2 linked regions of the Homo sapiens genome follow. The protein of the gene in region 1 interacts with the protein of each later gene in a biochemical or structural test. Each region holds a gene or a part of one and is shown on either strand. Other genes may lie near its edges.

Region 1 (16,640 bases):
AATTTCCTACTTGGCATTTTCTATAATTAACCTGAATAGTTTTAAAGAAAAAAATTTGAGTCAATACATACACATTTATGTATTCGTCTTTTTCCACAGGCTGATCACTAAAATACAACTTTCCAGAATTGACTGGTCAGGATTTTAGGGCCAGAAAGGCTACATTCAATCTCATTTGGAATCATTTGAGAGGATGATTTAGCCACTGCGTTATCTATGTGACACTAAAGATTAATTATAACAATGTATATAGGCGCCATAAGTTCACACTATGTAAAATGTTACCCACCTACCGTGATCACAGTTCTCGCTAATCAAAAAATGAGGCACAATCTCACAAAGAACACATTTTCTCATTTGTAAATTTGCGTATCAATTTACAATGGCTTTAAAAATGCATTTAATTGTATTTTTAACAAATTGCCTTTATTAAAAACAGCAAACTATAAACCAGACTGGGAAAATCAAGGATGTACAATTAACATGACTATAACCCAACAATAGGAAGAAAAATAATTCCAAGTCTGTAATGAATAAATTTGGGGGTTATTTAGCTTTCAACTCTTACAGCTAAAGTACAAATGCATACCAAGTAACTCTGCCAACCACCCACCTAAGCCAGGGTGGTTGCCTTCATCCAAGCTCACTTCTCTCAAGCCTACAGCAGCCATCAACCCCCAATTATAACATTCTTTTCCTCTGATTCAAAACATGGCCCACAAGCCCCACAATACTCTAGGAATCCACAAGCAATCTGCAAGAACTGCCACTTACGTGAGGCCTGTCTGCCACCCTTTTTGAAATATCAATTGATAGCTGGGTACTTCCAGCTGCCAGACAGTAATGCCGCTCCATCGGCTGACCAGCGGAATCACATTTCCACACAACAAAACCAGGGCTGCCGACCTTCCCCAGTACCACATGAACTAGCTGGGGCCACGTCCAAGGGGCAGCCAGTAGGACAGATATGAGCTGTCTCCCAAATCACCTTCATTTCACCAACTAAGCACTTCTTGATGTATTGTCCAAGCCTATCAATGTACATTCCTCACTGGCTCCTGTTAAGAGCTGATGATACAATAAAAGCAACATTTAGGAACCTTTGAAGACTCTGGAATTAAGGAGAAAGTTGAATTACCTACCCCAAGGGAGTAGTGGGAGAGTGGGGGGGGAGGCGGGGTGAGGGAGGCCTTTCTTAACCACCACATTTTTTCACTGTTAATCGTCTGTGAAAAAACTTAACAAGCTCTACTAGTTTACAGAGATGGCAGCTAGGTTGGTAGATGAAAGAAAACACAAGTACTTATCTGGTGATTAGAGGATGTCAGTCAATTAACACATTAGGTAAGAGAGGCAGCTTTCTTCCCTACACCTACCTGAGATTGGGCATCACTGGGGTAATGAATGGGTTTGGGCTTGGAGTAGTGGGGAGGAGCCCACAAGTTTTCGGGATGAAGTCAGGCCTGGCTGAGTCACCCGAGGGGCACTTAGGGAGCAGGGGGGCAGTGAACACCTCTGCATGAGCAGGGGCATAAAAACGGAAGGTGACAACATCCAGCTTTGCCTATTTCAACATTTAGCTCAGAGCCTCCAAGTACAAAGAAAGAGGAAGGAAATGTACCCTCCTTCTCTCTTCTCTTGAGCCCCCTCCTCCTCCCTAGGCCCCCCAAAATCAAACCACTCTTACTAGTACTAGCTCTCCTACACTGGTCAGCCAGAGTTAAAAGAAGGCAATTATGTCTTCCTACAGGAAGATGCTCAAGTTGCAAAAAACTCTTTATAAACTTTTGAAACACAAGCCCTTCAGGACGCAGGGGCTACTTGAGGTTTTAAAAGACCCTTGAACAGTTTCTGCGTGTTCTTAAAAACTTATTTACTGGCATCTTTCCATTGCACTTACACACCACATACACAGTATCTGTGTAATATAAACGCAGGCCAGTGCCAAAAAGATTCTTATCAATTATTCTGGGTTAAACAAGTTAACACATATGGTGGATACCTGTTAGGTCTCTAAAGCTTACTTTTTAAAAGAAGAATTAAGATTTGCTTGAAAAACAAACAAAATGAACCGGCATTCTTCTTAGAAGACCATTATCTTATACACAAATGTTCCAAAAGATGAAGCCAACAACATGATGTGCACCCCCACTTTACACAAGATCCACACACAATTGTCAAACGTGAGGATACAGTGCAATCACATCCTAATATATTCCCCCACAGGAGTGAAATAGCCAGGATGGCACACAAAAGCCCCACATTTGTTCGTGTCACTCACTATGCACTCACCTACAGGAGTCAAGATACACACAGGATTTTCTTACAAGAGATGTTTTAGGCAAGTGTGTTTGTAAAGAAAAATTTTGTTCACTGCACCCAATGTCCTCATTCGCCATAAACAGGAAAAACACGGAGACCCTCAGGTTTTTCTCTATTAAGCCAGATGCCCGCTAACTTCAGAGTCAACTGGCACTGCAATCCTCACACATTCCAGCTCCGGTATGTTACTGTTTGTGAACACAACAATTCTCTGCTCATTAACATTACAGGGGTCTCCAGCCATCTTTCCTTCACTTCTCCAAATTCATCTAAACGTGGCATAGAGCAAGACGCTCGAATGACGTTGGACAGCTTCCTTTTCACACCTGAGCCCCGGTAGCCCCACTAGGCAAAATGCAAACAGGAACCCCGGGCCTTGCTCCGCGCCCTTTGCTTCATGAAGCAACAGAAAGGCCACCTTCCTGGCTGTAAAGGCAGAAGCGCCTTCTTCCCCATAAACATCCTTGGGCAGCTCATCATTCCCCTCCTGCTCGTTCTTCTCCCTCTTCCCAGGCAGCCTGAGAAACAAAACTTAAACTGGACTTGTTGCCTAATCTAAATTAGGATCCCTCTGCTCTTCTCCGTAGCTCCATCTTCTCCCACACACCAGTTACTACAATGCGTAACTACAGATCTACACGTGTTTACGTGCAAGGTCCCCGGGGGCCTGTTCACCCTGGCACTGCCCAGGCGCCGCGCCTCGCGCTGCAGGTGTCCACGCGCGGACCACGGTATCTACCGCGCCCTCGTGTGAACACCCGACCGGGCCCCGTAATCACTCTGGGAAAGCGCCTTCAACAAAGCCCTCCGAAAGCAAGTGCTTTACTAAGTGCCCCTTGAGGCTACTGGCAGTGCGAGGCTGGCTGTCATTAGAACATTTTTCTGAACCCTCAAAAAGGTGAAAAAGCAGGACCGTGCTTTAGCAGGAACACGCACACCCGCCTAAATACCCGATTTTTGAGACTGTCCGGGCGAAGGAATTCAACGCATAGGAGCGAGCAGCCATGCAGTGTGCCTGGAGAATCACCAAACCGCGACGACCACGACCCTCAAAGCCAGTGACAAGCAGCGCGAATCTAAGCCCACCTCGGCCGCAGACCCTTCCCCGTCCCGCCAGGCCGCCGCGCCCTGTCAGCCTCCTACTGCAGGACCGCGGGGCCGCCTGCTCATCTGTCAGACGGGCGCTCGGAGGGGCCGGGAGCCAGGCTGCGGTGGGGCAGGACAAAGGCGCCCACGAACCCTCCCTGCCGCCGCCGCTCCACAGCCGCGCCGCGCCGCCAACATGGAGGGAAACGTCCGCAGTTTAAAACCCCCAGCTCCATTTCCGCAGCGGGCCCGGCTCGGGCGAGCTCCAGCCTCGCCCGCCGCCGCCCCGACCACCCGACTGGGCCAGAAAAGGCGAGGAGGGGAGGAGACGAGGAGGCGAGGAGAGGAGGGGAAGGCCGCCGCGCCAGGCCCCGCGCCCAGGGTCCCCGGCCCGGCCGCTGCGCCGGCCTCGGGCTTCCTCCCCCAGCGGCCCCTCGAAGAACGCGCCGCGGGGAGCTGGGAGCAGGGCGGGGGTGGAAGCACTCACCTGCGCCAGGTTCCGGCGGTGACACGGACGGCTCCCGGAGAATAGTCGCACAGCAACCCGGCGGCAGATCCACGCGCGCGACGCTACCCGGCCGCGCTCTCGCGCCCCGCAGTCCCGCAAGCCGGGCGCGCGCCTCCCCGGCCCCGCCTCGCGGCGCTTCTCCCCTCCCCTCGCCTCCCCTCCCCACCGGCGAGGCCGCCCGGGGCTCCCATTGGCTCCTCGACCTTTTGAATCATCCCCGGCGCTGTCGATTGGTCGCGCGCCGTGGCGCGTCCGCCCCGCCCCACCCTGCCTGGGGGCGGGGAGGCCGGTGAGCGGGGGAAACCGAGTCTGGCGGGGCGGCCCGGAGCGCGACGTTTGCCACCGCCTTATCTCAGCCGCCCAGGCGCCCTCGCAGCACACGGAGCCCGCGCGCTCCCGCCCTTTCCCTCCCAGCGCTCGCAGCAGTGTTTGGGGTGCCAGGTGGCTTGGCGAACGAGATTTTTTTTTAAGCTACAAAGAAAACTAATACATTCTTGAAGTGATCACCAAAGATCCGAGCTCGAAAGCGTTTCTCGGTAAAACACTATGAGTGCCCTCCTTAGCGTGTTAAAATCCCACAGAAGCCCCTGGACCAAGCAGCGGCATCGAAGGCGAGCAGGGGCGCTTTTGTGTCCGCGGCCGCTGAACCTGCGTAGAAGCGAACCCGGACCGATGCTGGGACCGGCGGCGGGAGGGAGGGGGAAGAATGGCCGAGGGCTCCTACGACTTACGCTGCGAGGAGGGGCTCGGTTGTTACCCGAGATGCTGTCGAGATGCAGTAGAAAATCCCCAACACCGCGGAGCGTGGAACAAGAAGTTTTATGCGTTACACACCGAAACACAACTTGACCTGCAACCTACAAGCCTGGTTTTAATTGAACCCCAAAATGCTGAGTCATGTCATTGTTGACTCCGAATCTGTTACGGATCCTAAGCTTTTTTTTTTCTGCTAGTTTTCATTATCGGTTAGTTGATTTCCTTCCTTTGAGGTCGAGAGTTTAAAGCAGTCCATTGAAGTTCCCTATTTTGCAGTGTGGTTTTAATCAAAGTATTTCTTAACACCCTAACTAGGTATATTTAAGTGAATTGCTATTTTGGAAGCATTATTAAATTGTAATAATGAATAGAACTTTTCATCTATAGCCTAGCTTCAGCTTTCATTTTCTCATAGAACTACAAAACACCCAGGTTTACTTCTTAAAAAAAAAAAAGTGAAAATACATCGAGTTTTCTCAGTCATTCACATGCAGTGTGAATGAGTTCATCAGAGCCTTTCCTGAGAAGTTCTGACATCAAATTGTCATTGCCATCGAATTTGCCCTTGGTGGAGATCTGTGCAACAGAAATGCACATCGCACTCCAAAGTCAGAAAATCTTTTATTTTTGACAAACCCCCAAGTCTCAATTGTCTTAACCCTTGACATAAGATAATATTAGTCCTACCTCATAGAGTTTTGCAGTAAATTACACAGAAATAAAAGCGCTTATGGGGACCTAAGACAGATCCTATCCCAAATAGCCAAGCAGTGAGTGCTACACTATTCTTTTCTCATATGTTCTACCCAGAATCAAGATTTCACTGGATTTCCCTTGAGGTGCACATTTCCTGGATGATTTCCACTTGTGAAATAGAAGAAGATTCGTTTCAAAAAAAAAAAAAAAAACACCTGGCCAGGCGCCGTGGCTCACGCCTATAATCCCAGCACTTTGGGAAGCCGAGGCGGTTGGATCACCTGAGCAGGAGTTCGAGACCAACTTGGCCAACATGGTGAAACCCCATCTCTACTAAAAAAATACAAAAATTAGCTGGGCACGGTGGCGAGCACCTGTAGTCCCAGCTACTCGGGAGGCTGAAGCAGAAGAATCGCTTGAACCTGGGAGGTGAAGGTTGCAATGAGCTGAGATCATGCCACTGCCACTCAGCCTGGGCAAGAAGAGCGAAACTCTGTCTCAAAAAATAAATAAAATAAATTTTTAAAAATTTTAAGAACCTTATTTTAAAGATCAGGTTTATAAAGTCTCATCATAACAAAATGAAGCCAAAACTTTGTAAATTAACTAGAGTTAGCTTAGCTAACATTTTACCTAATAAATTACTAATGACATTTTTAAAACAAAACTGATTTGACATCAGGAAAACTAAGCAATAATTTTTGTTCATTTCTACTTCGTGGACTCAAACATACCATGAACAATCAGATCTATATGTAGGCTGCTTTCTCAACAAAGGAACTGTTTGGTATTTTTCTCTTCTTTTTTAAGTCTACTAAAGGCTGTGTAAACTTGGAAGTGGGGAATTTTCAGAAAGTTCTCAGAAAGATGCTTGTCACTCACAACTAGCAAGTTGTGGGTTTTCAGAATCTATAAAGTAAAAGTCACTTAAAAGTCCGCATCTTGGCACCATTGTTGTTAATGAGGCCATGAGTGGCAAAGCCCCTTTCCCCATTCACATAACAAAAGCAAAGCAAAACCCTTCAGTCCTGCCACTAAAGCCAACCAAAACACACATGCGGCCAGGAAGCTTTCATATATAAAATACAGGAACCCCCAGCGGAATGCATTCCAATGTGGCAGTTATTTGGCTCTGGTCTCCAGAGGATCTCGGTTCCCAGGATTGAAACATCTCTTTCAGGAAAGACGTGTAGGTAAAGTTTCACGTGGCGTGAGATCCAGTTGGATTCTTTTGGTACTGTTACATAAGGAACAAACTTCTGTATGCTGCAAACTGCAGAAAGCCTTTATTCATAAGGTAGAGGTACCTCAAAAGCTGTCCGATAAAAACACATTTCTACTGATGATGTTTGATATGGTTTCTATTCACACAGAAATGGAGCTCACAATTAACATGATGCATTATGTCCATCTCAATAGCAATTTAAAAATTATTTGAAACTTCTTCTACATACTATATGTATGTTTGCAGCACTTATCCTCTTTTTTTTTTTTTTTTTTTTTTTTGAGATGGTGTCTCCCTCTGTCACCCAGGCTGGAGCGCAATGACACGATCTTGGGTCACTACTGCCTGTGCCTCCTGGGTTCAAGCAATCTTCTCACCTCAGCCCCGAGTAGCTGGGATTACAGGTGCACGCCACCATGCCCAGCTAATTTTTGTATTTTTAGAAGAGATGGGGTTTGGCCGTGTTGGCCAGGCTAGTCTCCAACTCCTGACTGCAAGTGATCTACCCACCTCGGCCTCCCAAAGTGCTGGTGAGAGGTGACAGCGTGCTGGCAGCCCTAGCAGCCCTCGCTCACTCTCTGCACCTCCTCGGCCTCGGCGCCCACTCTGGCCGCTCTTGAGGAGCCCTTCAGCCTGCCACTGCACTGTGGGAGCCCCTCTCTGGGCTGGCCGAGGCCGGAGCGGGCTCCCTCACCTTGCGGGGAGGTGTGGAGGGACAGGCGTGGGTGGGAACCAGGGCTGAGCACTGGGCTTGCAGGCCAGTGCAAGTTCCAGGTGGGCGTGGGCTCGGCAGGCCCCGCACTCGGAGCGGCTGGCCGGTTCCGCAGGCCCCAGGCAGTGAGGGGCTTAGTACCCAGGCCAGCAGCTGCGGAGGATGCGCTGGGTCTCCCAGCAGTGCCGGCCTGGCCCACCAGCGCTGTGCTGGAATTCTCGCTGGACCTCAGCTGCCTCCCCGCAGGGAAAGGCTGGGGACCTGCAGCCTGCCATGCCTGAGCCTCCCCCACACCATGGGCTCCTGAGCGGCCTGAGCCTCCCAGATGAGCGCTGCCCCCTGCTCCACGCGCCCGGTCCCATTCCGACCGCCCAAGGGCTGAGGAGTAGTGTGGGCACAGGTCGTGGGACTGGCGGGCTCCCTGATGCAGGATCCACTAGGTGAAGCCAGCTGGGCTCCTGGGTCTAGCGGGGACTTGGAGAACCTTTATGTCTAGCTAAGGGATTGTAAATACACCAATCAGCACTCTGTGTCTAGCTCAAGGTTTGTAAATGCACCAATCAGCACTGTGTATCTAGCTAATCTGGTGGGGACTTGGAGAAACTTTATGTCTAGCTAAGGGATTGTAAATACACCAGTCAGCACTCTGTGTCTTGCTCAGGGTTTGTGAACACACCAATCAGCCCCCTGTGTCTAGCTCAAGGTTTGTAAGTGCACCAATCAGTGCTCTGTGTCTAGCTAATCTAGCAGGGACTTGGAGAACCTTTATGTCTAGCTAAGGGATTGTAAATACACCAATCAGCACTCTGTGTCCAGCTCAAGGTTTGTAAATGCACCAATCAGCACCCTGTGTCTAGCTCAGGGTTTGTGAATGCACCAATCAGTGCTCTGTGTCTAGTTAATCTAGTGGGGACTTTGAGAACTTTTGTGTCTAGCTCAGGGATTGTAAACATACCAATCAGCACCCTGTCAAAACAGACCAATCAGCTCTCTGTAAAATGGACCAATCAGCAGGATGTGGGTGGGGCCAGATAAGGGAATAAAAGCAGGCTGCCCAAGCCAGCAGTGGCAAGATGCTCAGGTGTCTTTCCACTTTGTGGAAACTTTGTTCTTTTGCTGTTTGCAGTAAGTCTTGCTGCTGCTCACTCTGCATCTGCATTGCGTTTATGAGTTGTGACACTCACTGTGAAGGTCTGCAGCTTCACTCCTGAGCCAGTGAGACCACAAACCCACCAGAAGGAAGAAAAGTCTGAACACATCTGAACATCCGAAGGAACAAATTCTGGACACGCCACCTTTAAGAACTGTAACACTCACCGTGAGGGTCCGCGGCTTCATTCTTGAAGTCAGTGAGACCAAGAACCCACCAATTCTGGACACACTGGGCTTACAGGCATGAGCCACGATGCCCAAGCCTATTTAAACATTCTCAATATTAAACATTTATTTGTTAATACATAAATTAGAAGGGGAAACTATTTGAATAGATGGAGCAAGTATACTGCTTCAGTGGAGGAACTTAGAAGATGTGGGATATGTGTGCTTTAATGACTTGTTGATAGAGGGAAAACAGCAGCAGGATATGAGGTAATAATAATGATAAATAATCTTTGTTCAGTTTTTACTTCGCCCCCAGCTGTTGCTCAAAGTGCTCCCTGTGTTCTAACTGATTTACCCTCATAAAAGCTGTCCCAGGTAGGTGATCTTATAGCTGAAGAAACTGAGGAGGTATGGGGAGGTTAATACTTCCCCAGACTTATCCAAGGCAGTGTGATTCCATTGTCTCCCAAACCAACTAGCAAAGTGCAGGAGTTCTCAAGGTATGGTCCCTGCTCAGCAGCAGAGCTTCTCCTGGGGGCTTGTTAGAAATGCAGCTTCTGGCTGGGTGCGGTGCGTCATGCCTGTAATCCCAGCACTTTGGGAGGCCGAAGTGGGCGGATCACTTAAGGTCAGAAGTTCAAGACCAGCCTGGCCAACATGACAAAACCCCATCTCTAATAAAAATACAAAAATTAGCTGGGCATGGTGGTGCATGCCTGTAATCCCAGCTACTCAGGAGGCTGAGGCAGAAGAATCACCTAAACCCAGGAGGCGGAGGTTGCAGTGAGCCGAGATTGTGCTGCTGCACTCCAGCCTAGGCGATAGAGCAAAACTCCATCTGAAAGAAAGGAAGAAAAAGAAAGAAAGAAATGCAGCTTCTCAGGTCCGCTCCTGAAGCTTGAAGCTTGGGGTGGGCTCAGCCATCCAGCTCTCCAGAGGATTCTGATAGAAGCAGGCTCCAGTTGGAGAACCTCTGGCGAAAAGATAGGTCATGGTGACCGTAATGATTTATTTTCCTTCACGGTTTCCTATCTGAGGCTTTAAACCACTTACTTGATTTATAGAAAGGAATACTAGAAAGCTGTTCTGAAGCTTGTGCAGCACCCGAGTGTCTTCCCAAAGGACTGATGATATGTTGAGCCTTAGATTAATAAGAGTCCATACCTGCTGGCCAGGCTGAAGAGACTGGCCAAGAGGTAGGGGGGTAGGGAGAGGGGGCTGTCAGGGATGGGAGTGGCTGCCACCATACAGCCTTCTCCTCCTCTCTGGCCAGAGCATCATGAGATTAACTGCTCTGGCAAAGTGTGCTCTCTTGTTTTGGAAAACTATTTCTTTACTGGCTGTAGAATTAATGTATTCTGAAAACTTCTAAGGAAATTTACTTTTTAAAAAATAATAATAAAGAATTAAAACTAAGGGTAAAGGACATTTAAACTGAATGAGGACACTGAGAATCAGAAAGATCACACAGTGTGTGGCAAGCTGTGCTTCAAACCAAGTTTTTCCGGACTCCAAAGCATATGTTCTCATCATAGGTTCTAGAGCAGGCACCTGCGTTAGCAAGACGGTCAGATGCATAAGCACATGCAACCTTGATTTACGTTACTTATTGCCAGCCAGAAAGAGGAACAGAATTCAGTACCAGAATTTACTAGATTATAATTCTAGTGAAACCAGGTCTATGTTGCTTTTGTTGATAGTTCTTGGCACATAATAGGTGACTATTTGTTGAATTAATTGATTGATTTGGTGATCGATTGATTAGGTGGAGAGAAGGAGGGAGACAATTCTAAGATTGATCCAACACTCAGTACAAGGAGAAATTAGTGAAGACCAGCCTGGCTGGGGTGGAGTAACAGCTCATAATAGGAAAAAACTATGAGAATGATGTCAATATCATTCGATCTATCAAAAGATCCTCCTACCTCAACTAAAGGGCATAGAGTGACCATGGAAGTGACACTGGGCCAGGAATGCAGTGTCTGAAGCTCCAGGGCTGCCACTCAGCCCTTATCCAGCAAGTTATCCAGGTCCTGATTTCCTCATCTGTAAAATGGGGATAAAAAGTACCCATTCTGGCCAGGTGCGGTGGCTCACACCTGTAATCCCAGCACTTTGGGAGGCCAAAGCAGGCAGATCACTTGAGGTCAGGAGTTTGGCCAGCCTGGCTAACATGGCGAAACCCCGTCTCTACTAAAAATACAAAAATTAGCCAGGCGTGGTGGTACATGCCTGTAATCCCAGCTACTTGGGAGACTGAAGCAGGAGAATTGCTTGAACCCGGGAAGCAGAGGTTGCAGTGAGCCAAGATCCCTCCACTGCACTCCAGTCTGGACGACAAGAGTGAAACTCTGTCTCAAAAAAAAAAAAACAAAAAAGTGTACCCATTCTGCACAAGGTACACTAGGTAATTGTGAGGATTAAATGCTATATACCTGTTAGAACATATCAGGCAATCATAACCCTTAGTGTAATCATTTTATTTCAAGTTCGTTAAGTCACCATTTTTAGTCAACTATAAATAGATGAAAGAGTGTTTTCAGTAGCAGATGTGTCAATAATGTTTTAATGCGTTTGTTGTTTTTTCTCTAACCGCCTAAATCCTTTGAATCATCCTGTAGTGCACACTTCAACATAAAAGACGTAACTTCGTCTTTTCTTCCATGCTACTCTAACTGAAAAATCTAACCCGCTGGATTAATCTTAAAACTTAAAGGTCCTTGGACTGTTCAGGAAGTGATTATTATTCACATTTATTTTAATGTTTGCTAATTAATAACTGTTTTTTAAAATTCGCCTAAAATGCGTTTGGATAGGTAGAGAGTCCTGAAATATTTATCTGCAGGAAAAAAAAATCAAACTTAGTAACATGACACAGACAAGGCCTTCAAAAACTCACCCTAATGGATTTCTGGTAGGCTCAACATCCTCTTCTCTTTCCAGCACCTGCCTTCTCTTTCCCACCCCCTCCACCCTCAGTTCTACCAAATTTCTGATGAGTCCTCAGATAAGCCTTTTCCTCTCTTGTTGCTTGGAATGCCTCCCCCTTCTTTTGAGAGTGGCCTGTTCTTGCTCATCCCCAGCAAAACTTCCTAGGGCAGTCCCCACATACATCTGTCACTGCCTTCCCATGTTATGGGCATCTGCACTCCTCCCAGGCAGGAAGTATATTTAATTTCTCCTTGTATCTCTCCCCATTAAGTAAATGAATGTGTTCATCATGAAACTGTGTCATATATGTTCTCCTAAAGGTCAGAAGGTAGTAAACGCTCTTGTTCCAGTTACTGAGCTGCCACAGGCTGGACTGAGGCAAGAAGAGATAAAGCCTCCGCTGGCACTGACTGTTCCCACCGGCTGGAGAGGTGCGGAAGCCTATCTTCGGTGTCTCTCTTGCTGTCTGCCACAGGCTCACAGCCCCATGGTGGGGACTCTGCTGTGCTTAAATACCCTTTTCTCCACCTGGGTTGCCACCATCTCTCTTAATTCAGAATATGTAACTAAATGTTTCTTTTTAAAACCTACAGGGAACACAGGTGCATGGCTTGTTTTGGCATGGTTGCTAAAACTGCGAGTCCCAGAGGGCAGCCTTCTTCCCCACCTCCCACCCAAAGTCTACATTCAGAGGCAGACGGGGGCTCAATTGTGGAACAGAAAGTACCATCTAGGTAACATGTAATTACCATGTTGCTTCCCTTCTGGACAAGATAAGGCTCAGCCCATCAGTGTTAATGTTTAGCACTTCATGTCTGTTCAGCAATTGCTCCCACTCTATCAACAAAACTACACCATACCCTTTAGGAAAAGTGTGTAGCAACTACAGTTGGCATCAGAACAATGGAGAAAGAGAAGGAGAGGGAAGGGGACTCATTTCTAATGAGGCCCTGTTCTGTGTCACTTACCAGTCCTTACCTTATTTATGGCTCAAATCAACTCAACAAAATAGGCATCACCCCCTCTTTCAGGACGAGGAAACTGAGACTCAGGTCAGCAAAGTTGCAATACAGCGCACCCACCAAATTGGGGCTGGAAAAGAAATTCTAACCCAGTTCTCTGGATTCCAAAGCATATGTTCTTTCTACCCTCCAAACCCATTAGGGTCCCCAAGCAGCCTCTTAGCTCCCTTAGCCATTGACTTCCGGTCGCCACACACAATTCATATTACATGATCCCACTGTCAATGTCAGCTGGAGACATCCCAGGCTAATGAGAATATAGCTTGTGGGCGTTTTGTCTACATTTCTGGAGCAAAGAACACTCATCCCTGCTCTCTCAAAGAGCACCATGCATGTGAACTTGTCCTTGTCTCTCACCCTTTGATTCTTTCTTCCATGGCTGGTCTATTTTAATTCTGATACCTATTCTGGATTCTGTAGGACTGTCTTTATGTCTTCCTTTCCAGGGACTATCTTAGAATATTCACTTGTAGGTATGATATCAAGGGCAGGATCACTGTAATCTTTGTAGTACACTTAGTACAGTACCCAATGTGATTAAATCTGTTTAAAACACATTTAAGGGGAATAAAATATAAAATATTTGAGATGAATATTTAAAACCAAATTTGCATAATTGTTTTAAATTTTTTCATTTTACTTGAGCAAGAGGTACAACATAAAACCTATTTGGAGCACAGTAGTGTATTGAATCATTTTAGTCATAACACACACCTACATAAATGACTAAAAATATCAATATTTTATCCTTTTAAACAGATGACATATAATTGCAACGTAGATTTATTTGAAAGTTGTACAGAGTTGGCTTGATAGTTATTCAACAACTGTAAGTATTAATTGGCATGAGTATTTCAGCAGAAAAAAACTATATATTCATACTAAGTTGCTGATGATATTTTGCTTGCTTACTTTAGATACAAGAGGCTAGGATCCCAGAAATTTCACTGCTGTAGCAAAGCAAGTCATGTTACTCTGAATTGACAGTTCCCAGTCATTCTCCACGGTAAGTCATATTGCCAAACACAATGCCATTTTTAGGTCTACTTTAATCCTATTTGACTATACAGATATGGTTTTTATTTACTTAGTCCTATGGTTTGAATGTTTGTCTTCGCCAAAATTCATTTGAAATTTAGTTGGCATCGTAACAATGTTGAGAGGTGGGACCTTTAAGAGGTGATCAGGCCATGAGGGCTGCACCCTCATGGGCGGCATTACTGCCATTATAAAAGGGCAGGGTCAGCCCCCTTTCATCTCTTGGCCCTTCCACCTTCTGGCCATGGAGTGACACAGCAAGAAGGCCCTCACCAGAGGCAGGCATTTAGTGCTGTTCATTATAAATTACCTGGTCTGTGTTATTCTGTTATTCAAAAATGTCATTTCTGCAAATATATAGTTCCTCCCTTTTTAAAAAAAAGTTCTACTTCTTTTTTCTATTTTACTTTTACTGATGTTTTGTGTATTCATCTTCCTGGTCCTATAGAGAACTCCTATTGCTCCGTAAGTCAAGGCCAGAACTCCCATCCTGACCAGAAGGAAAGATGCCCAGTTCCCACATCTCCTTTGCTAGGCCTGCCAGAAGGGGGCTCCTCCTCCTGGCCAAGGCAGGCTAGTCAGATCCCTTTGTGTTCATTTTTAAAAAGAAGTGCCATATCCTTAAACATACTTCAGCTGTCCTTGTGCCTGCTGGATAATGTATGAGCTTCTGGAAAAAATTCTTCAGCACTGAACATGAATTTAACAGGATATCGCTCCCTTCTTAAGGTTTTCAAATCATAAAGTCAGATTAGGGATTCCCATTAATAATTAGTCCTCTTTATTACACTCAAAAGGACAACATAAATTCCTGTCAGTTACTTTGAAAATACTTTGCTCATTAATACCTACTCAAACCAACGATAAATACTACTTACAAAAATTCTCTCCTTAACAAAACTCCACCCAGGCTCCTCTCAGCCCTCTTCTCAACTAAGTGCTATCCTTGGACTATAAAGACTTGATCAGGCCGGGTGTGGTGGCTCACGCCCTAATCCCAGCACTTTGGGAGGCCAAGGTAGGTGGATCACCTGAGGTCAGGAGTTTGAGAGCGGCCTGGCCAACATGGTGAAACCCCGTCTCTACTAAAAATACAGAAATTAGCCAGGCGTGGTGGAGCATGCCTGTATTCCCAACTACTTGGAGGCTAAGGCATGAGAATTGCTTGAACCTGGGAGGCGGAGGTTGTAGTGAGCTGAGATCATGCCACTGCACTCCAGCCTGGGCAACTGCCAGAGCGAGACTCTGTCTCAAAAAAAAGACTTGATCAAATGCTAGCATAGTTTCTAACAGCTCAAGGGCCTTCCCTAGGATGGCCCTAGCCCCTCTTAGAATGCCTGCCTGAGAAAACTCGAGGCTGCCCAGGGAATTTACTGTTGGTTCCAGCCAACACCTGAAGACAAGGCCCCCATCTCCCTGCCTCTGTGGGAGGGTAGGAGCCTAACTTCCATAAGCACCAGTAAGTAAACAGATGGGTTGCACATGGACCAACCCCCACTTCCTGCATTTTATAATTTTTTTCACAGACCCTCTTGAGCCCCTGCTCACCCACTCCCTATTCCCTCATCCTCCCTTTTTTTTTCTGAGACAGAGTCTTGCTCTGTCACCCAGGCTGGAGTGCAATAGCGCCGTCTCAGCTCACTGCAACCTCTGCCTCCCGGGTTCAAGCGATTCTCCTGCCTCAGCCTCCCAAGTAGCTGGGACCACAGGTGCATGCCACCATACCCGGCTAATTTTTGTATTTTTAGTAGAGACAGGGTTTCACTATGTTGGCCAGGCTGGTCTCGAACTCCTGAACTCGTGATCTGCCTGCCTCAGCCTCCCAAAGTGCTGGGATTACAGGTATGAGCCACTGCACTCAGCCCATCCTCCCTTTAAAATGCCATCATCTCTGTACACATTGAAGTTGAGTTTGGAGCACACTGGACTTTTTTCCCTATTGCAATAATAATAGTATATTACTGATGAAAGTCTGTCCTTACCGAGTATCCAGGCTTGTTTATCTTTGATACTACCAATCTTCTTTTACTAAAATAAATATTATGATTTCTAAATTTTTTAATCAACTGAGTTATATCAGATATGCTTAGCCAAAGCATGTAGAACCCCATTGAAATTTTGATTTAGCATGCATCCACTAGATTAAGAATTATTGCTCTAAGAGTCTAAATGTATTTGCATCATGCATTTTTTTCAGTACAACATAAAATGGCTTCATATATAATATAGTTCAAAATGTTGTTAATTTCTTCAGGCCAAGGAACATGCAAACAAATGAAGAACTCTTCCGATTTCCTAGGGAAAATACGGTTTGAGGATGGCTTAAACATAAAATATTAACAGGAGTTAATTAACATAGAAGCAAGCTGTTACCTCAAGTTGCTTTCATCTCAGCATAATTCAAGGTGGAAGAGAACTGAGCTTCAGAGTCTTCTCTTCCATGGATTGTCCTTTGCAAAGCAAGAAAACATTTTTCCAATGGTGAATGTGTTAGTAAATGCCAGTGAAGCTATAATTAAGTGATCTGGGTTTCCAAGGAGGAAAGTGAAGTTTCAAACCATGTTTACTGTACACAGTTTTTCAGGGCAAGTACTTTGGACACATAAGACACATAAGCTTTTTTTTTTTTTTTTTTAGGGGTCTTGCTGTGTTACTCAGGCTGGAGTGCAGTGGCAATCATAGCTCACTGCAGCCTTGAACTCCTGGGCTCAGGGGATGCTCCTGCCTCAGCCTCCGGAGTAGCTGGGACTGCATTTTTAAAAAGTATAATGCTACATCTACCAGGAAAATAACTCAGGTGGAGGATGGCTTTTTTCCAATGAGAGTCCATGATTGAAAGAGTTAGAGGAATCCTAACTAGCAGAACTGAGTAACAGAAAGCACATGGACTTTGGAGTCAGAAACACCTGCCTTTGAATCCTGGCTTCTGCGCCTGCACTTGAGATCTTAGGCAAGGTACTTACATTTTATTTTCAGACTGTTTCCTTATCTGTAAAATGAGAAAACTAATAATACCTGCCTTTC
Region 2 (15,799 bases), on another chromosome or scaffold:
GACATTATGTAGGGAAATAGCAGCAGAGAATGGCTAATCTTAAAAAATAACGAACCAACCAACCAAAAAACAAAACAAAACAAGACCAACAAAAAAAAGTGCCATCCCACCCCTCCCCTTGGTTCTTTCATTTGGGGTTATATTAAAGACTCGAGCCTCTGAGAAAATCAGAAAGGCAAAGCCATAGAGGAAAACTGCTTCAAGGCCAGAATTTTGGGTAAGGTAAAGAAAAAGCTGTACATGAAAGCAGGGGACTGTTTGGAAAAGAATCAGAATCTCAAGATCTATTTTTCTTAAATGGGAAAGCTCTGAAACCCAGATCTCCGTTCTACCATCATCCTGATCCTTTAGTTATGGGGCAATAAACTCAAGTGCAATGAGTAAAGTGCCAGCCATGGATACAAAAACAAAAAATAAAACAAAACAACCAACCAAAATAACTCTGGTCTTAGGGTAATAGAAGACATACAGGAAAGGACTGTTTATAGAACACCTGAGGTTCTCAAGAAATTACTATTCAATGGTTCTGTTTTTGCTTACATTAAAAATCAGACTGAAGATTCAAAGATCTTAACTATTAAAGGATGAAAGGAATTTGACAGTGCTTTGAACAGTGATAAAATGGTACCCAAATTTGGTGTTCATATAGCTATTTAAAAAAGACAGTAGCTTAAAAGTTGCAGGAAAAAATGTGAACACAGAGAACAACAGAAACAGTCCAGGAAGATGATGCAGCCCGGACACAGCAAGTTTAATGTCTCTGCTGTACATAGAATTAAGACCCTTTCCCCCTCCTCATCCTTATGCTGGCAATAGGATATGCACTAGAAAATTTGACTCTTAGAGTCAATGAATAAAAGGATGGGCTCATACACCTTCATAGCTCTTTTCAAAAAGGATGCTTATAATTTAAAGGATGTCCTAATGGGAAGGAAAGGTACAGGGCAAGAGGCTGTTTCACATTTTAGTCCATTAGTCTTTGGCAGAGCCCAACCAAGGCCAAATTCACCTAGGATGCCCAATGGCTGTGGGGATCTCCACAGGGTCAAGTAAGCAAACCCAAATGAACATGTTGGATTAAAAAAAAAACAAGATCTAGAAACTCTTGAAGGAAGAGCTTCACCCTGAAAAGGGAAGAGGAAAATGCTTGAAGGGGAAGGGCGGAGGGTCAGTGTGTGATCTCTGCTGTGGTGCTGGGCAGGGGCTTAGGAGTTAAGCCAAGGGTGCCGGAGACACTCGGCGGCAGTGGCTCTCTTCTCAGGGATCAGCTCCAACATGGGCAGTAAGAAATCTGTGAAGCCAGCTGCCTCTTCCTGCGACCACTCATACTTCTCCACTAGAACCTCAAAAAGGCCCCAAGGTTTCAGCTTCGTGATATGTTTCAGGTCACCTGCAGTGAAGACAGTACAGAAAAAGCCACTGATCAACACAGACAAATGACAAGGTACTCTTGTGGAAACCCACAAACTAACCCATGTAGTCTATGAGGAATCAAATTTTGCAATCAGAATCTAATCCTTCATTCACAAAGCATTTCTTTTCTGACATATGCCTCAGAAAGAAGTGCCTCTATTCTTCATACGGCTCCAAAAATTTAAGGTAATTTGTTTTCTCCCCTATTCTAGGATTTTTTTGGTCCCAGTCAAACTGGGTGTGACAATCAAGAAGTAGGTATTTACTACTAAAATAAACATGAAATGCCTATGTCTTCAACATGGTCTTATATGGTGTGCAGAGACACTCTAGTACCACATACCGAGAATAATTTGCTTATACTCTTTTTTTGTGTATGTGCTCAATAGTTTAGTAAATGTTGCTTTACAGTGAGGCAGTAAAGTTAAAACATCATGTCAAGCATGGATAAAAGCAACAAAAAAAACCCCAAATCCTACACAGTTTTCAGATACAACAGCTTCATATACTCTATACCAGGGGTCCCCAACTCTATACCAATACCCCCTATGGTACCAGTCTGCGGTCTGTCAGGTCTGCACAGCAGCAGGTCAGTGGTGGGCCAGCAAGCATTACTGCCTAAGCTCCACCTCCTGTCAGCTCAGTGGCTGCATTAGATTCTCACAGGAGCGTGAATCCTACTGTGAACTGCAGTAGGGATCTAGGTTGCATGTTCCATAAAAGAACCTAATGCCTGACAATCTGAGGTGACACAGTTTTATCTCCAAACCACCCCCCAACCCCCCCATCCATTGAAAAACTGTCTTCCACAAAACCAGTCCCTGGTGCCAAAAAGATTGGGGACCGCTGCTCTACACTATACTGGAGTATCAACCTAATTGCTTCTTTGAAGTGACAACTTTTTAAAAGATAGTCAATTATTAATAGCTAAGGCAAATGCTGCTTTAAAATTTTAAGTTGGCCAGGCACAGTGGCTCATGCCTGTAATTCCAGCACTTTGGGAGGCTGAGTCGGGTGGATCACTTGAGCTCAGGAGTTCAAGACCAGCCTGGGCAACATAGTGAAACCCTGCCTCTACCAAAAATACAAAAAAATTAGCTGTGTATGGTGGCACATGCCTGTGGTCCTAGCTACTTGGGAGGTTGAGGCAGGAGGATCATTTGAACCTGGGAGGTGGAGGTTGCAGTGAGCCAAGATCGTGCCACTGTACTCCAGCCTGGGTGACAGAGTGATACCCTGTCTCAATAATAATAATAATAATAATAATAATAATAATTTTTTTTAAACATAAAAATTTTAAGTCTCTTTTGTGAGCAGTGAGTGCCTATTTGATTACCTACCTGGTAAACACACATGCCTTAATCTGACTGCACATGAGGAGGAACTCTTATGAAACATTTTACAATTTTCCCACCTAAAAAGAGGTTTAAGAAAGGGTAATGTTTCTGAGGATGGCTCCTGCCAAGGATTGAGAAAAGTCATTTTTCTCAGCACTTCTGTAGAAGTTGTGAGGAAAAAGGGAACCATGGCACAATGGGGGTAGAAAAACCAGACCATTTCCTAGATGCTTCTAGGTCAGGTTTTCACATTTCAGGTTTTTTTTGCAATGCTTAAGAAATATATTATCAAGTCAAAAATTGGAAGTTTTGTTTTTGTGGTTTTTTTTGTAATAACAAATACATAAAACTAAAAAGTGTGAAGTTCGTTTGTATGACTAATGTACTTCGAGTGACTGTGTTAGGTGTCACTGGGATGCAAAGATGAGTGAGATGTAGTCCCTGCCCTTATGTAAGAAGCTTAAATTACCTGCCCTTTGGTAGAGGCAGTTCTTAGACCAAACGCCAGCAAAAAATTTGCCCATTTTTCAGAAGTGCTATAGAAGTAATCAACCAACTGCATGCAGGCACTATACATATTAACTGTTAGTAAGAAGTATACTTTATTATTATCTCCATTAAGAAATCAGCAAACTGAGGCACAGTTAGATCCTGTCAAAGGTCACATGGCTAGTGGAGTAGCCAGGATTTGACAGTCTGGCTCCAGTCTCTGCTCTTTTTTTTCCCCGAGACAGGATCTTGCTCTGTTGCCCATGCTGGAGTGCAGTGGCAATCATGGCTCACTGCAGCCTTGACCTCCCAGGCTCAAGTGATCCTCCCACCCCAGCTTTCGGAGTAGCTGCGACCACAGGTGTGTACCACCATGCCCAGTTAATTAAAAATTTTTTTTTGTAGAGACAGGGTTTTCCTGTGCTGCCCAGGCTGGTCTTGAACTCCTAGACTCAAGTGATCCTCCTGCCTTGGACTCCCAAAGTGTTGGGATTACAGGCGTGAGCCACCATGCCTGGCTCCAGTCTCTGCTTTTTTTTTTTTTTTGTGAGACAGAGTTTCACTCTTGTTGCCCAGGCTGGAGGGCAATGGTGCGATCTTGGCTCACTGCAACCTCCGCCTCCCAGATTCAAGTGATTCTCCTGTCTCAGCCTCCTGAGTAGCTGGGATTACAGGCGCCCGCCACTCTTCCCAGCTAATTTTTTGTATTTTTAGTAGAGACGGGGTTTCACCGGGTTGGCCAGGCTGTTCTCAAACTCCTGATATTGTGATTCGCCCACCTTGGTCTCCCAAAGTGCTGGGATCACAGGTATGAGCCACCGCGCCCGGCTCAGTCTCTGCTCTTGACCACTTTTTTTACCTCTTTTTTATCTCTTTGCTAAGTCACAGGTTAGCATTCAAGGCAGGCCCATCATTCTGTAGGACATTGGGAATATGTGCTTACCTCTTCATTTTTAAACACTTCTGCCTCCTTAATGTCTGGGAACACATTTACTTTACCTTTTTTGGTGAAAAATTCCTTGGAATATTTTCCTGCCACAATGAGCTTGCGAGGCACCTTCCCCAGAAGTTCTATGATCAATGCAATGTGATCTGTATATTTCAAACATTTCAAGAGGGGGGAAAAAAAAGATCCGTAACAAGAGTAACAAATGCAGCTCTAGAAAACAGCAGAAGGAGCAGCATGCACATCTCTTTGTAAAGCCTATCAGGCTTACTTTCTATCCTAAATGGGAAGAGGAAGACTCTATCCATCTAATGGAGAATTCACAAAGTCAAATTTTTGTGGATTCAGTGATAACTAAAAACAATCTTGGTGTGAATGCTCTGCTTCCTGAAGTATCCCTGGGTCCTACATAACAATACTACCTCTGTGACTGAAGAAGTCTTGTGAATATTTCCCACTGAGGGAAAAGCGTCTTGGAATTCTGCCTATCAGCTCTATAATGTGCACAATGTGGTCTAAAATAGAAGGGTAAGAAGAACAGATCAAGGACAAGCTGTAAAAGAGGTTTTTCTATGAATAGCTTTTTCAAGGACTAGCTGTTTAAAAGTAACTACAAATAAAACCAAGGATACTGAAGGAAGACTGACTGGGAAGGCCAAGAATTATTTCAGGTGGTTGGTCACCCGATAGTGTCTGGCAAGTCCCATTCTGGATTTTGGAGGCTTATCTTCATCTTTAGTTCTATTTTGTCTATATATCTAGGTTCAGGTAGGTTCTTTAGGTAAGATAAAAAACTGTCCAAATATGTGTTAGGCATTCTAGAACTATTATTTGTGATCATTCTGTCTCAGCCTCCCCAGTGGCTGGGATTTCAGGCATGTGCCACCACACCTGGCTGACTTAAAACATTTTTTGTAGAGATGAGGTCTTGGCATACTGCCAAGCTGGTCTCAAACTCCTGGGCTCAAGCAATCCTCCTGCCTTGGCCTCCCGAAGTGTTGGGATTACAGGCCTGAGCCACCACCTGGCTGATACCCCATTTTAAAGATGAGAAAATAGAACTTCAAAAAGCATGAATGGCCTAACTTGAAACTTCAGGGCTAATATGAGCTAAAACTCAGATGAAAACCAATGATCTTATGTCTTGTCTAAAGCTTTTAATTTCTTCCTAAAATCACTTTTTAAAAGTAAAGATTAGCACAAACATTTTAAAGTATAGCTGCTTGATGATCTGTAAACATCACAGTATGAATATGGACCATGAGCACAACCAGGGAGGCATGCAGCCTCTTAACCAGGAGGTGAGTCTGGGACCAACCAGTACACACACCTCAGGTAGATCTACTGCCCCCCCCCTTTTTTTTTTCTCTCTGCAGGTGACAGAAGTTAAGAATATAAAACTTTTTTTTTTTTTTGAGATGGAGTCTTGCTCTGTCGCCAGGCTGGAGTGCAATGGCATGATCTCGGCTCACTGCAACCTCCACTTCCTGGGTTCCAGTGATTCTTGTGTCTCAGCCTCCTGAGTAGCTGGGATTACAGGTGCATACCACCAGGTCCAGCTAATTTTTGTATCTGTAGTAGAGACAGGGTTTCACATGTTGGCCAGGCTGGTCTCGAACTCCTGACTTCAAGTGATCTGCCGCCTTGGCCTCCCAAAATGCTGGGATTACAGGTGTGAGCCACTGTGCCTGGCCTGTATTTTTTGTAGAGATGGGGTTTTGCCATGTTGCCCAGGCTGGTCTCAAACTCCTGGGCTCAAGCGATCCACCCACCTCAGCCTCCTGAAGTGCTGGGATTACAGGCGTGAACCACCACACCCGGGCATAATACTCCTGGCCAGAAAAAAAGCTTTAGAAAATACTTTTATCGTGTAGTTACAGAATCATTAAGGTTTAAACTTCCAGTTATGTATCTTATAGGGGAAATAACATGCTAGAGACGTCCATATTATCTGGGAATTTGTGAAGGTTTCAGGTTTTATCTTTCTCATGTAAAGGAGTTAGTGGTGTCATTTAAAGGGGACTTCACATTTATGACTTCCCTACAACCTTTGAGCAGTTTTGACTGAATTTATGGTTTGGTAACAAGTACCTGCATGCCAAGAATTTTCTGCTGGTTTTTGGCAGGACCTGCAAATGTGTTTTTACCATTAACAATAACAAAAATAAGAATACTAAGGAAAAACTTAGACTATAATTTCTAAGAGAGCTTCTTAAAGTTCTTAGAAACTTAAGTAAACTTCCAAGTAAAATATTGGTCCTTTAAATATTTTTCCTATACCAAGGAATTCCCTTGAAATTGTTACTTTACACTTAATTCTTGCAACCTATTTTGGCTTATGATAGGATTGATATACTTGACAGATAAAATTATCAGGTATTATCCCATGAGTTAGGGCTGTGGAAAGCCAGAGTAGAGGACATGGTACTCAGGCTTCTGTCCTACCACGACTCGTAACAAACTATGCACACACTAGTCAGGGGTAAGGGTTTGCTTGTTCCTGCTCTTATAGGTCAAACTGCAGCAGAACAGCATCGGTGGGGCTGATGTTTGACCTAAGGACTATTAGTACTAACTGGTATAGGATGGAATAAATTAGAATTTAAACATCTAGGGAAGATGGTTTTTCCTTGTCCCCTTATTTGGGACTCTGCATATGTATTAAAATTTTCAGGTTTGGTAGCATAAGGTAACACCCGATATAATTCTAGCCACTATATGTGTTCTGTACCACACACTACCATTTATGGAGAATCTAGGGAAGTAAAGGGGAAAAAAATTAATTACCCTCCCAAACAAACATAGTAGGTAGTCTCTAGGCCTATAATCCCAAACACTGTAAGCCTATAACCCTAAACCTATAACCCAGAAAAATAGCAAGCAGAGAGTAGGTAAAATCAAGTAGTAATTATAGTATCCTCTAACATGGGGCTTATATATACAAAATATGTCCAAACTCTACCCACTTAAATAGGCATTCATGGGAATTACATAGCATAGCATTTTCCAAATGGTATTCATTAGGAATATTAGCAGGTCCTACTAACATTACCTATTAATATCCCAGAAGACCACATTTTGAGAAACAAAGAGCACTCTTGGTTCCATACAGCATGAAATATGCATTCCCAAAGATTCAAGGAAAGCACAAAAAGTAAAGAACATGCTCTACATTGGGAGGGTAGATGCTGTAGTGATATCTCAAAATAATCCTCATTAATCCTACAACTAAAACATAAGCTGCCTCAACTGTATAAAACATTTTCTTGGCTGAGCGTGATGGCTCACGCCTGTAATCCCAGCACTTTGGGAGGCTGAAGTGGGTGGACCACGAGGTCAAGAGACAGAGACCATCCTGGCCAACATGGTGAAACCCCGTCTCTACTAAAAATACAAAAATTAGCTGGGCATGGTGGCACAAGCCCGTAGTCCCAGCTACTCGAGAGGCCGAGGCAGGAGAATCGCTTGAACGAGGGAAGTGGAGGTTGTAGTGAGCCGAGATCGCACCACCGCACTCCAGCCTGGCGACAGAGTGAGACTCCGTCTCAAAAAAAAAAAAAAAAAAAAAAAAAATCACAAAACCATTTTGTTTGTTCATTCAAATTATTAACTCATTTAGTTATCTGGATGCCATCATAATAGAAAAATCAGACACACACAGTTGCTGCTTCCACAGTCTCTCAGACAAAGTAACTGGCAGCCTAGGCTTTTCCCACTGGCTACCACAACATGTAAATCCATTCTACTTTGTTTTAAAATGGAATTCCAAAAAAGAAAAAATTAGTTTTATATTCAGAAAAGGGAAAAAAGAATGCTAAATTTTGGCAGAATTTATAGAAATAGGATATAGTCTCTGCATTCAAGTAGTGTGTGTATATTAAAATAACTGACCTCTAAATAAATTTGGAGGCATAATTGAGCAACAGGTTGATGAGCAGGTAAAAAACTGGGTAAAGAATGAACCACTGATATATACAGAAAGGAAGATAACTAGATGTTGAAGAAAAAATTGTCCAGCACACAGAAGTTTTAGGTGAACTGTGGCCTTTTGACTCTGACAGAGCTCTTTAGTATCTTTCAGAAAATATCTAAAAACCTAATATAAAATGTCTTTTATATTTCTAACTTTTCTGGGATTTACATGTTTTGCACACTAACAAGACTAAGGCTCTTCGGTACTAACAAATGATGTTAGCTTAATGTGGAAAGTGTAAATACCACGCACACACATCCATGGTTAAGGGGACTCACCTTCATCTCGAGTGTACTCTTCCCCTGAATGAGGTTCAAACAAATAGTCACCTGTGGCCAGTTCAAAGGCCTAAAAAAAAAAGAGGACAGTATATGAAAGCACAAAAGAAAAGAAGGCCTTTGGAAAGCTGATTGCTATTTGGCTCAATATGAAGTAACTCTTGTTCCCTTGGGAAAACTTATAGATCATTTAAAAAAAAAAAAAAACAAAAACTTAAGATTATTCCTAAAGCATTCCTTCCACATCCCTATCTTAATAAAATGGAGAAAACAGCAAAGACTCAGTAAATACTAACATGTGGGTTATTTCATGCCCAAACCTCCCCACCCTAAACCCTAGCAATTCAGCCCTCCTGAGTTTCCCTTTTTTGGCCGGAAAGGGGCATACCTGGATATTAAGGTGATTCTAAGTTATTATTCATGAGAAGAACAGGTCTTTTTTTTTTTTTTTTGAGACGGAGTCTCACTCTGTTGCTTAGGCTGGAGTGCAGTGGCACGGTCTCGGCTCACTGCAAGCTCCGCCTCCTGGGTTCACACCATTCTCCTGCCTCAGCCTCCCGAGTAGCTGGGACTACAGGTGCCCACCACCACGCCCAGCTAATTTTTTGTATTTTTAGTAGAGATGGGGTTTCACTGCGTTAGCCAGGATGTTCTCAATCTCCTGACCTCGTGATCTGCCAACCTTGGCCTCCCAAAGTGCTGGGATTACAGGTGTGAGCCACCACGCCCAGCCCAGGTCTTTCTTACATTATAATCACACATGGCTAGAAATTGAGATTCTGTACCAAACAAAAAAAATCAAAAAAAAAAAAAAATTCAGACTTCTACTTATGACTCTTTAGTGTTTGACAAGTACATCATTAACTTTTGCATAGGAAGTACTCCCTAGATTGTCCCAGATGGGAAGTTCCTGATTCCTAGGTCCTTTGTTTTTGAGATGGAATCTTGCTCTGCCGGCCAGACTGGAGTGCACTGGCATGATCTCAGCTCACTGCAACTTCTGCCTCCTGGGTTCAAGTGATTCTCCTGCCTCAGCCTCCGGAGTAGCTGGGACTACAGGTGCATGCCACCACGCCCAGCTAATTTTTGTATTTTTAGTAGAGATGGGGTTTTACCATGTTGGCCAGGATGGTCTCAATCTCTTGACCTCATGATCCACCCGCCTCTGCCTCCCAAAGTGCTGGGATTACAGGCGTGAGCCACCATGCCTGGCCAATTCGTAGGTCTTTAGAAAATCAGAAGATTAAGTGTAAAGGGAGTCAGGAGCCTAGCCTATGTGACTGGCAAGTCAGCACTCCCTAATTAGGAAAAGAAAAGCCTGTCTCCTTTAATAGAAAAACCTCTTACAGTGCTCGAGAGTGTCTTAGGAAATGATATCCTTGGGAATAAGTGCCATGCAGAATGAAAAGCAGGGCTACATAAATCCTCACTGATTACAAATGGAGTTTTAAAAATTAGTACACAACAGCAGTTTTTTTTTTTTTTTTTTGGATGGAGTCTCGCTCTGTCGCCCAGGCTGGAGTGCAGTGGCACAATCTCGGCTCACTGCAAGCTCCGCCTCCCAGGTTCATGTCATTCTCCTGCCTCAGCCTCCCCAGTAGGTGGGACTACAGGTGCCCGCCACCAAGCCCGGCTAATTTTTTGTATTTTTAGTAGGACAGGGTTTCACCATGTTAGCCAGGATGGTCTCGATCTCCTGACCTCGTGATCCGCCTGCCTCGGCCTCCCAAAGTGCTGGGATCACAGGTGTGAGCCACCACGCCTGGCCAACAGCAGTTTTAAAAAATGACCTTATTGATAGGGAAGCACAGTTATAAAATAAGCGCTAGTCATAGGTCAATTTTGATTAAATCAATGGTACTAAGCAGTCCAAACAACCTCAAGAACTGTAGAGTCCAGGACTTAGTTGGGGCATATTCTCAATTTAGACCCAAGTTTAGGTCCTGGTGGCTCACCAGTGTCAGTTTCTGCAGTTTCATGACAGAACAGCCTTTCTCAAAACTGTACTACCGTCCAGAGGGAGACCACAAAACCAGAAGTTTCAGGATAGGTTTAGGAATCAAATACTATCTCTAAATGTCAGCAGTGCTATGGCTTCTTGCTTGGCATTGCTTATTTTACATTTCAGTTGTTTATTAAGAAACTGAACCACAGTGATAGAGCAGATACTTGTTCTACCCTGAGTTGTTCCGAGGTTTATAGTCCCAAAGCAACAGAGAAACAAATCATGATTCTTGTTCACCAAAACTTGTCAATCATTCCTGATACCAGTACTTTAAAAAAAAATCTCATGGTCTCATATATAGAGTTCAGTAAAAATACTGAAATTAAAGTTAAAAAAAACAAAAAACAAAAAACACAGAGCCAGCCGCGGCAGTGCTATACGCCTGTGGTCCCAGCTATTCAGGAGGCTAGAAAATGAAATACTCTTCAGTGCTAAAAAGAAATGAGCTATTAAGCCGTGAAGATATGGAGGAACCTTAAATGCATATTACTAAGTGAAAGAACCTAATCTAAAAAGGCTACATACTGTATGATTCCAACTATTTGACATTATGGAGACAATAAAAATATCAGTGGTTGCCAGCGAGTGGGGGACGGGAGGGATGAATAGGCAGAGCACAGAGGAGTTTTAGAGCAGTGAAACGATATTGTATATAATAATGATAGATACATTTGTCAAAACTTCTAAAAGAGTGAAATGAAATGTAAACTACTGACTTTGGTTAATAATGATGTGCCAATGTAGGTTCATTGTTTGTAACAAATGTATCACTCTGGAGCAGCAGATCGACAGTTGGGGAGGCTCTGTGTGTGGGGAGCATATAAAACTTATTTGTACTTTTTGTTCAATTTTTCTGTGAACCTAAAACTGCTCTAAAAAATAAAGTCTATTAAGAAACAAACCCAAATAAAACCAGTGTACCATCCTTTGTTAACCTTCTCTAGACTATTGCCTTTGAGAAGAATGGCTTAGAAGATAGCATGAAATGCATGGAAAAGTTAAAACAATGACAATTTAAACAGACTAATTACATTCAGATCCAGAAGTAAATTGCAAACTCCAGGTAGCAGAAAGGAATACTGACACAGCTTGAGGGGCAATCTAGCATTTCATAAGCAATATGGTTGTGTGTGGTCAGAATGCCAAGGAGTGATTACCAAACAGAAAATGAGGAGTTTCAGGTAAGAGCTGTTTCTATAAAGTAACATGTCCATCATCTGTATCAATGGGCTGGCCAATGGCTGTCTCAAAGTGAGGAAGACAAGTCAGAGTCCTGATGCTTGGCCTTCTGCAGAGATGCAGGTGTGCTCAATGTATTAACTTAAGGGCCCTTATCTTGACCCCAGGTTTGACCACATTAAGAAAGGCTGAAGTGCTGGAAATGTTATTTTAGAAAAAAGGAATTAACAGATGATTCAAATTTCCTGTCTTCAACAATCCATACCAAAGGGAAGTAAAATTCCAGAGCAGGGCTGGAGGCTGGAACAATAAAGTCTGTTTTAAATTTAAAAGGTTGCCAAAGAATAGGGGAAAAGGGAAACACGGAGTTTTTCTTCAATGGTATATAGAGTTTCAGTTTAGAAAGATAAAAAATTTCTAAAGAGGCCAGGTAGGGTGGCTTACACCTGTAGTCCCAGCACTTTGGGAGGCCAAGACGGGAGGATTGCTTGAGCCCAGGAGTTCAAGACCAGCCTGGGAAATACAGTGAGATCCCATCTCTTAAGAAAAAAAAAAAATCTAAAGATATGTTGTATAAAAATTTGAATATAGGCCAGGCGCAGTGGCTCATGCCTGTAATCCCAGCACTTTGGGAGGCTGAGGCAGGTGGATCACTCATGCTCAGGAGTTCGAGACCAGCCTGGGCAACATGGTGAATCCCGTCTCTACCAAAAATACAAAAAAATTAGCTAGGCATGGTGGCACATGCCTGTGGTCCCAGCTACTCAGGAGGGTGAGCCGAGATTGTACTACTGCACTCCAACCTGCGTCCTGCATGACAGAGTGAGACTGTGTCTCCAAAAAAAAAAAAAAGACTAAAAAAATCAGAAATGAAGAAATGAAAGAGGAGACATTATAATGAATACCACAGAACTACAAAGGATAAGAGACTACTATGCACAATCATATGGCAACAGATTGGATAACCCAGAAAAAAATGGAAAAATTCCTTGACAATATAACCTACAAAGATTGAACCATGAAGAAATAGAAACAAGAGATTAGATCTGTAATAAGAAGTCTCCCATCAAAGAAAAGCCCAGGACCTGATGGCTTCACTGCTGAATTCTACCAAACATATAACGAAGAAGTAACAGCAATCTGTCTCAAACTGCCCCTGCTACTGCCAAAAAAAGACAAAAACCATATGATCATCTTATTAGATGGAGAAAATGCATGTGACAAAATTCAGCATCCTTTCATGATAAAAATGCTCACACAATTAGGTATAGAAGGAATGTACCTCAACACAATAAAGGCCATATTTAAGAAGGCCACAGCTAACATTGTACTCAATGGTGAAAAATTGAAAGCTTTTCCTCTAAAATCCAGAACAAGACTCTCCCCACTTCTATTCAACATAGTATTGTAGTATTGGCAGTCCTTACTAGAGCAATTAAAAGGCAGCCAAACAGAAAAGAAAGAAGTACAAATGTCAGTTAGCTGATAACATAACTTTTTTTTGGCAAGATGGAGTCTTGCTCTGTCATCCAGGATGGAGTGCAGTGGCACAATCATGGCTTGCGGTAGCCTCAACTCCGGGGCTCAAGTGATCCTCCTTCCTCAGCCTCCCAAGTAGCTGAAACTACAGGTATGTGCCACCACATCTGGCTAATTTTTTCATTTCTTTTGGTAGAAATGGGGTCTCGCTATGTTATCCAGGCTGGTCTCAACTCCTGAGCTCCAGTGATCCTCCTGCCTCAGCTTTCCAAAGTGCTGGGATTACAGGCATAAGCCACCAAGCCTGGCCTGACATGATCCTATATATAGAAAACCCTAAAGACTCCAGCAAAAACCCGTTAGGACTAATAAACAAATACAGTAAAGTTGCAGGATACAAAATCAACACACAAAAATCAGCAGCATTTCTGTAAACTAACAACTATCTGAAAAATAAACCAAGAGAACAATCCCATTTACAATAGCTACAAAAAAAAAATACTTAGAAACATATTTAACCATGGAGGTAAAAGACCTGTACACTGAAAACTATAAAATGCTGATAAAAGAAATTGAAGACACAAATAAATGAAAATATATCTTATGTTCATGGTTTGGAAGATTTATTTTTATTTTATTTTTTTTTTTGAGAGAGGGTCTTGCTCTGTGATCCAGGCTGGACTGTAGTGGTGTAATCTCGGCTTACTGTAACCTCTGCCTCCCAGCCTCAGGTGATTCTCCCACCTCAGCCTCCCAAGTAGCATGCACCACCACACTTGGCTAATTTTTAAATTATTTGTAGAGATGGGATTTTGCCATGTTGCCCAGGCTGGTCTCACACAATCCATCTGCCTTGGCCTCCCAAAATGCTGGGACTACAGGTATGAGCCACTGTGCCCGGCCTTACTATTGTTAAAATGTCCGTACTACTCAAAGTGATCTATCAGATTCAATGCAATTCCTATCACAATTCCAATATTATTTTTCATAGAAATAGAAAAAACATCCTAAAATTCACATGGAATCACAAAACATCCCAAATAGCCAAGGCAATCATGAGCACAAAGAAGAAAGCTGGGCTGGGCATGGTGGCTCACGCCTGTAATCCCAGCACTTTGGGAGGCTGAAGTGGGCAGATCACTGGAGCTCAGGAGTTTTGAGACCAGCCTGGGCAACACAGGGAGACCCCACCTCTACAAAAAATACAAAAATAGTTGGATGTGGTGGGGCACACCTGTAGTCCCAGCTATTTGGGAGGCTGAGATGGGAGGATCACTTCAGCCCAGGAAGCGGAGGCTGAAGAGAGCTGTGATTGCGCCACTGCACTCCAGCCTGAGTGACAGTATGAGACTCTGTCTCAAAACAAGAACAAAGCTGGAGGCATCAAACCACCTGATTTCAAACTATACTACAAAGCTACAGTAATTAAAACAGCATGGTCCTGGCAAAAAAAGCAGACGCATAGACCAAAGGAACAATATAGAGAGCCCAGAAATGAACCCACGCATGTATGGTCAAGTGATCTTTGACAAAATTGCCAAGAATACAGAATGGGAAAAGGATAGTCTCTTCAATAAATGGTGTTGGAAAAACTGGATATAAAAAGAATGAAACTGGACCACCCTCATCTCACTCCGAATACAAAAATCGAAATGGATGAAAGACTTAATAAGACCTGAAACTGAAAAACTACCAGAAGAAACAGGGGGAAACCCACATGACATTGGTCTGAGCAATGATTTTTTTGGATTTGACCCCAAAAGCCCAGGGAGCAAAAGTGAATACAGACAAATGGGATAACATCAAACTAAAAAACTTCTGTACAGCAAAGGAAACAATAGTGTGAAGAGATAACCTATGGGTTGGGAAAAAATATTTGCATGCTATACATTTGATAGGGGTTAATATCCAAAATAATATGGAACTCAACTCAATAGCAAGAAAACAAACAAACAAACCCAATTAAAAAACAGGCAAAGGACCTAAATAAACATTTCTGAAAAGAAGACACACAAATGGCCAACAGATCTATTAAAAAAAAAGCTCAACATCACTAATCATTAGGGAAATGCAAATTAAAACCAAAATGAGATATCATTTCATATCTGTCAGAATGGCTGTTATCACAAAGACGAAATATTTAGTGTTGGTGAGGATGTGGAGCAAAGGGAAGTCTTGAATGCTGTTGGTGGGAATGTAAATTAGTACAACCCTCATGTAAAACTATATGGAGGTTCTTTAAAAATCTAAAAATAGAGTTACCATATGATCCAGCAATCCCACTTCTGGATATTTACCTCAAAGATTTAAAATCAGTTTGTCTAAGTGATGTCTGCATTCCCATGTTCACTGCAGCACTATTCACAATAGCCAAGTTATGGAATCAACCTAAGTTGATTTTAAAATCAATCTAAGTTGAGTCTATACAGATCAGATAAACAGACAATAAAATGTGGTATATACAGGTTGCTCCAAAATCCAAAACTGACATGACACGCAAAGGAAATGCTCATTTGGAGCATTTCAAAGTTTAGATTTTTGGATTTGAAATGTTCAGCCAGTATGTATTCTGCAAATATTGCAAAATCTAAAAAATTCCCCAAACTGAAACTGGTACCAAGTGTTTCAGATTAGGGATATTCAACTTGTATACACAATGGAATGGAATACTATTCAGCCTTAAAAACAAGATGGAAATTC

What was found.
Region 2: of the proteins of LBR (region 1) and SRPK1, one has a biochemical effect on the other in vitro, tested with the Homo sapiens proteins (one study listed by IntAct).

What each region holds. Positions count from the first base shown.
Region 1 is NC_000001.11:225,424,059-225,440,698, forward strand, and holds the start of LBR (delta(14)-sterol reductase LBR), read right to left. Parts: upstream 3,981-16,640; 5' UTR 3,896-3,980; intron 3,835-3,895; exon of another isoform or gene 3,273-3,834; intron 32-3,272; 5' UTR 18-31; coding exon 1-17. UniProt on the Homo sapiens protein: Catalyzes the reduction of the C14-unsaturated bond of lanosterol, as part of the metabolic pathway leading to cholesterol biosynthesis.
Region 2 is NC_000006.12:35,834,099-35,849,897, forward strand, and holds part of SRPK1 (SRSF protein kinase 1), read right to left. Parts: exon of another isoform or gene 13,706-15,799; intron 8,507-13,705; coding exon 8,437-8,506; intron 4,332-8,436; coding exon 4,239-4,331; intron 1,391-4,238; coding exon 1,206-1,390; 3' UTR 1-1,205. UniProt on the Homo sapiens protein: Serine/arginine-rich protein-specific kinase which specifically phosphorylates its substrates at serine residues located in regions rich in arginine/serine dipeptides, known as RS domains and is involved in the phosphorylation of SR splicing factors and the regulation of splicing.